Linked DNA regions of Homo sapiens. The protein of the gene in region 1 interacts with the protein of each later gene in a pairwise test. Each region holds a gene or a part of one and is shown on either strand. Other genes may lie near its edges.

Region 1 (2,674 bases):
CAGGTATGGTGGCACACATCTGTAGTCCCAGCTACTCGAGAGGCTGAGGCACGAGAATCACTTGAACTCGGGAGGCAGAGGTTGCAGTGATCCAAGACAGCGCCACTGCAGTCCAGCCTGGGTGACAGGGTGAGACTCTGTCTCAAAAAGAAAGAGAAAGAAAAAGAAATTTAAAAAAATTAGCTGGGTGTGGTGGCGTGCACCTTTGGTCCCAGCTACTTGGGAGAGGCTGAGGTGGGAGGATTGCTCGAGCCCGGAAAGTGGCGACCACAGGGAGCCACGATCGCGCCACTGCACTCCAACCTAGGCAACAGAGCAAGACCCTGCCTCAGAAAAAATAAAAAAAAAATCGAATGGTGTCTGGTATGTAGTACGTGGTCAGGAAGCGTGAGCCATTATTACCATTCTGGGGAGCCCATAAGGCCTTCTGCTTCCCCAGGCACAAGATCTGCCTCGCCCAGTCCAAGGGCAGCATCTACTTACTTCAAGAACTTGCCAAAGGGCAGGCAGACTTAACCCAAAATAACTTTATTATCGTCTCCACTTTTGATATAAAAGCATTCTCCAAATGGGGGGCAAATGTGGCAAGTCACTGTGGAGTCTGGGCCCCCTGTACACCCTTCTACTCCGAGGAATAAGCCCTGTGCCCACCCCAGTTGCCCATTGCCATGTCCTGCCAACCCCCTGCCCCCCGCCAGGGCAAGCCACAGTGCAGTACAGAAGTGAAAGCCTGAGATTGGCCAGACACGGTGACCACAGGGCCTCTTCCTGACCTTGGCTGTGGGGGCAGGGGGATTGCACATTGCAGCTTCTTGCTGTCTCCAGGAAAGACTGAGTAACTGGGGGGCCCCCGGGGCTGGCACAGAGGCCCAGGCAGAGGCCGGGCTTGCCTGAGGTTGTCGTGTAGCATTTCACTCTTCCTGAGTTTCGGGGTTCAATCTGGTCAGCCATCGCTTCTGGGGATCAGTCCTTCCCAGTTCCAGAATCCCCCTTCTCTGGACAGCTGGGGCCCACTGAGGCTCCTCCCAACTAAAGCAACTGCAGCTGCACCTTCAGCCTCAAGGCCTGGCCCCATGGCCCTGGCTGCCCCTCTGGCTGGACACCCCAGGGTCCTGCCATGTGGCTCACCACCTCCAGCCGGTAGGTTCCAGGCCCCGGCCGCCTCCGCCCCAGCTGCAGGGAGCTGACGCCACGGAGGTGATGCATGCGAAAGAAACCTTGCTCGTTTCCGCGGACGATGACGTAGCGGATCCGGCCCTCTAGACCCTCCAGGGCCGGCCGGAGCTCCAGGATGCGCTCGGCCCGGCCCAGGTGTGAGAGGTTCAGGCCCAAGGTCAGCAGGGCCTCGGAGTCAAGGGTGGCCAGGTTCACCTGGGAAGAAAGGCCAGGTGTGTGGTCAGAGCCCAGGAGAATCGGGATGTGGTGTGGGTAGGGGGTCCTCGGATTGTGGCCAAAGAGGAGATTCTGGCCAATCTCTAAAGTGAAGGAAAGAGCCATAAAAAGGAATGAAATCATGCCATTTGCAGCAACGTGGATGCAGCTGGAGGTCATTATCCTAAGCTAATTAATGCAGAAACAGAAGACCAAATACGGCATGTTCTCAGTTATAAGTGGGAGCTAAAAATTGCATACCCATGGACATAAAGATGGGAAGCACAGACACTAGGACTACTAGAGCAGGGAGAGAGGGAGGGAGACAAGAGTTGGGAGGCCGGGCGCAGTGGCTCACGCCTGTAATCCCAGCACTTTGGGAGGCCGAGGCGGGTGGATCACAAGGTCAGGAGTTCGAGACCATCCTGACCAATATGGTGAAACCCAGTCGCTACTAAAAATACAAAAATTAGCTGGGCGTGGTGGCGGGCGCCTGTAGTCCCAGCTACTTGGGAGGCTGAGGCAGGAGAATCGCTTGAACCCGGGAGGTGGAGGTTGCAGTGAGCTGAGATCACGCTACTGCACTCCAGCCTGGGCAACAGAGGAAGACTGTCTCAAAACAAATAAATAAATAAATAAAAGGAAAACTACCTATTGGGAACTATGTTCACTGTTTGGATGATGGGATCAGCAGAAGCCCAAACTGCCTCATCATGCAATATATCCATTTATTAATAACAAACCTGTACCCTCTCAATCTAAAAAAATAGGATGGGCACAGGGGCTCATGCCTATAATCCCAGCACTTTTGGAGGCTGTGGCAGGAGGATTGCTTGAGGACAGGATTTCTTTGTTTCTTCTTCTTTTTCTTTTTTTTTTTTTTTTGAGATGGAGTCTTGCTGTCGCCCAGGCTGGAGTGCAGTGACACGATCTCGGCTCACTGCAACCTCTGCCTCCTGGGTTCAAGTGATTATCCTGCCTCAGCCTCCCAAGTAGCTGGAATTACAGGTGCCTGCCATCATGCCTGGCTAATTTTTGTATTTTCAGTAGAGACAGGGTTTCACTATGTTGGCCAGGCTGGTCTCAAACTCCTGGCCTCAAGTGATCCGCTCACCTCAGCCTCCCAAAGTGCTGGGATTACAGGCGTGAGCCATTGTGCCTGGCCAAGGCCAGGATTTTGAGGTCAGCATGGGCAACATAGTGAGACCTCATCCACCCACAAGAAGTGAAAATATTAGTACTGGTGTGCACCTGTAGTCCCAGCTACTTAGGAGGCTGATGTGGGAGGTCCCAGGAGTTCGAA
Region 2 (3,828 bases), on another chromosome or scaffold:
GGAGTTTGAGGCTGCAATGAAGCTATGATTGCACCACTGCATTCCAGCCTGGGCTACAGAGCAAGACCTCATCTCTTAAATTTAAAAAAAAAAAGGAGAGAAAAAAATGCTGGGCACCTTGGCTTATGCTTGTAATCCCAGCATTTTGGGAGGCTGAGGTGGGCCGATCACTTGAGGCAAATCACCAGCCTGGTCAACATGGCAAAACCGTGTCTCTACTAAAAAAAAAAAAAAAAAAAAAATTAGCCTGGTGTGGTGGCTCACACCTGTAATCCCAGCTGCTTGGGAGGCTGAGGCACGATAATTGCCTGAACCAGAGAGGCGGAGGTTGCAGTGAGCCAAGATAGCACCATTGCACTCCAGCCTGAGTGACAGAGTGCAACTCTGTCTCCAAAAAAAAAAATTAGAAATGTATAATAGGTAAACATGTTACATATATAAAGTATCAATTATCATGTACTTTGATTTTTAAAAGATGAGAGAGTATATGTCATTATGATATTCTAACCAAGAAACTAACCTTTTTCTGTCTCCATTTTTACTGATTCAGAACATATATTTTAATTGTAGTGAGGTTTTATGCCTCAACTTGTTAACTCTGGTATGTACAGAATTTTTGTTCTTTGTATATTAGCATATAATGTCATAGTTGGCATTTGGTTTTGTGTATTCACTAAATTTTGTTTTAAAATCTTTGAAGAATATAAACTAGTTGCAGGGCCTAAAGAAATAAGCTTTTAAAATAATTTTAGGGAAGAACATTTTTAAATAAAAACTGAAAATGAATTTGGGTATTTGGTGTGCTGAAAAGTGAAATTTTTGCCTATTTAAAACTGACCCTAATCTTGGACATTAGTAATAAAAGGCACATATTAATAAAAGACACATTGACCTAGATTATGTTTAACAAAACTTTAAGTTATTTAAATTATGCTAACACAGCATATGTAGCACATTTTAGAAATTCATAGATCTTTTATTTTTCTAGTGTTAAACAATTACTTCAAATTGATTTGTATTGCTACATAAGGCAAAAAACAATTCCTGAACTTTGCAGAATGGAAAAATATTTCAACTGCCACATTTACTCTTTTAAAACTGAGAGCTTTAAAGCAGGAGCTCCCAATCCCCGGTACCCATCCCTGGCCTGTTAGAAACTGGACCACATAGCAGGAGGTGAGTGGCACGCAAGCCAGAGAAGCTTTATCAGTATTTACAGCTGCTCCCAATGGCTTGTATGGCCACCTGAGCTCCGCATCCTATCAGATCATTGGCAGCATTAAATTCTCATAGGAGCATGAACCCTATTGTGAACTGTGCAAGCCAGGGATCTAGGTTGTGCCTCCTTATGAGAATCTAATGCCTGATGATCTGAATTGGAGCTGAGGTGGTAATGGGGAGTGGCTGCAAAAACAGATTAACATTAGCAGAGAGGCTTGACTGCACAGAGACCGTAATCAATCAACTGCTTGCAGACTCATATCAAAACCCTCTCAGTGAGTGGCAAGTAACAAGCTGCATCTAGTGGCAGGTTTTAAGTCAGAATCTGACATTTAATCTGCATGTGGCCTGCCCATTACTTATTTACCACTTCCATCCATGTCTCTTTCCTGCACTGTGCATTTGTCTCAGTCACAGTTTTGGTAAGCCCACAAGCTAACCCTAGCCAAAATGAGTAAAAAAACAAACGTCCTTGGAGAGCTTCTTTGAAAAGGGGGAAAGACCCAATGATGAGACAGCAGAAGACTCTAATACTGCCAACAAAGAGAAAGTGGCATTTAAAAGAAAATATCAAGAGTCCTACTTAAATTGTAGGTTCATTGCAATAGGTGATTCACATTCTCCAAACCTGCTTTGTCTAATATGTGATGACCAGCTATCCAGAAAAGCCATGAAACCTTTAAAAGTGCTTCACCACATGGAGACCAAACACCCTGCATTAAAAGACAAGCCTTTGGAGTTTTTCAAAAGAAAAAATCGTGAACGCAAAGAACAGAAGTAATTATTGAAGGCCACCACTTCATCAAATGTGTCTGCAGTGAGAGCATCATTCTTAGTGGCTAATCACATTGCTAAAGCTAAGAAGGCCTTTACTACTGGTGAAGAGTTGATCCTGCCTGCTGCTAAGGACATCTGTTGTGAACTCTTAGGAGAGCCTGCAGTTCAAAAGGTGGCACATGTTCCTCTTCTGGCTAGCACCATAGCTAGATGAATTAATAGAGGATATGAGGCACAGTTGTTAGAATTAATGAGTCACTGTGGTACCCAATCCAGGTTAATGAGTCTACCAGTGTTGACAGCAAGGCAACAATGCTTGTTTTTGTGTGATACATTTTTCAGGAGGATGTGCATGAGGATATATTATGTGCACTTTTGCTTTCAACCAACACCACAGCTGCAGAACTATTCAAGTCTTTAAATACATATCAGGAAAACTGAATTGGTCATTTTGTATCGATATATGCAGGGATGGAGCAGCTGCCATGACTGGACGGCTTTCTGTTTTCACTACTCAGGTCAAAGAGCTTGCTTCTGAATGTGAGTCTGTGTACTGTGTCATCTGTAGAGATGCTGGCTAGTTGGAAAATGCCACCTGAACTTACCATTTTGTAGGATGTGCTTAAAATTTTCAACCACATTAAAGTACATGCCCTTAATTCACATCTGTTCATGTAGCTCTGTGAGAAGATAGACACAGAGCACACGTCTTCTCTTATACACAGAAGAGAGACGGCTTCCTAAAGGTAGATCACTGGCCACTGTTTTTCAGTTACAATAGCTGCTCCAGAGATTTCATTTTAGAAAAAGTCACCACTGGCAGCACATTTCGTTGACACAGAATTGGGTCACAAAATTGCTTACTTGGCCAGGCATGGTGGGTCACGCCTGTAATTACAGCACTTTTGGGAGGCCAAGGCAGGCAGATCACTCAAGGCCAGGAGTTTGAGACCAGTCTGGCCAAAGGGGAGAAACCTCGTCTTTACTAAAAAATACAAAAATTAGCTAGGCATGGTGGCACATGCCTATAATCCCGGCTACTCGGGAGGCTGAGGCACGAGAATCACTTGAGCCTGGAAGGCAGAGGTTGCAATGAGCCGAGATCATGCCACTGCACTCCAGCCTGGGCAAGAGAGCGAGACTCCCTCGAAAAAAAAAAAAAAACTTGCTTACTTGTGTGACATATTCAATCTGTCACCTCAGGGGAGAACAAAACTGTGTTCAAGTTGGCAGATAGAGTGGCTGCATTCAAAGCCAGACTAGTATTATGGGGGCCACAAGTGAACATTGGGATTTTTTGACATGTTTCAAACATTAGCAGAGATTTTAAAAGAGACTGAGCCAGGACCTTTTTTCTCCCAGCTGGCACATGATCACCTATCTCAGCCTTCAAAGAGTTTGAGTATTATTTTCCAGCCACGAAAGAGCCCCGAACTGGGAAGGAATGGATTCACAACCCATTTGTGAATAAGCCAGGTGAATCGACTTTGTTCATGCTAGAAGAGGATCAGCTGCTTAAGATCACAAATGATGTTGCCCTTAAAAGTATGTTTGAGACAACTTCACATCTCCATACATTCTGGATTAAAGACAAAGTGGAACATCCTGAGATTGCCACGAAAGCACTGGAAAGCCTGCTTCCATTTCCAACCTCCTGTCTTTGTGAAACAGGGTTTTCTGTAGTGACAGCAGCCAAACAAGATTACAGAGTAGACTGGACATAAGCAACACACTTAGGGTGTCACTGTCTCCCATCACCCCTAGATGGGACCGTCTAGTTGCAGGGAAAACAAGCTCAGGGCTCCCACTGCTTCTACATTATGGTGAGTT

What was found.
Region 2: the proteins of FBN3 (region 1) and C11orf58 interact in a two-hybrid assay, tested with the Homo sapiens proteins (one large-scale study listed by BioGRID and IntAct).

The regions. Positions count from the first base shown.
Region 1 is NC_000019.10:8,064,890-8,067,563, forward strand, and holds the end of FBN3 (fibrillin-3 precursor), read right to left. Parts: intron 1,372-2,674; coding exon 1,030-1,371; 3' UTR 513-1,029; downstream 1-512.
Region 2 is NC_000011.10:16,748,354-16,752,181, forward strand, and holds part of C11orf58 (small acidic protein), read left to right. Parts: intron 1-3,828.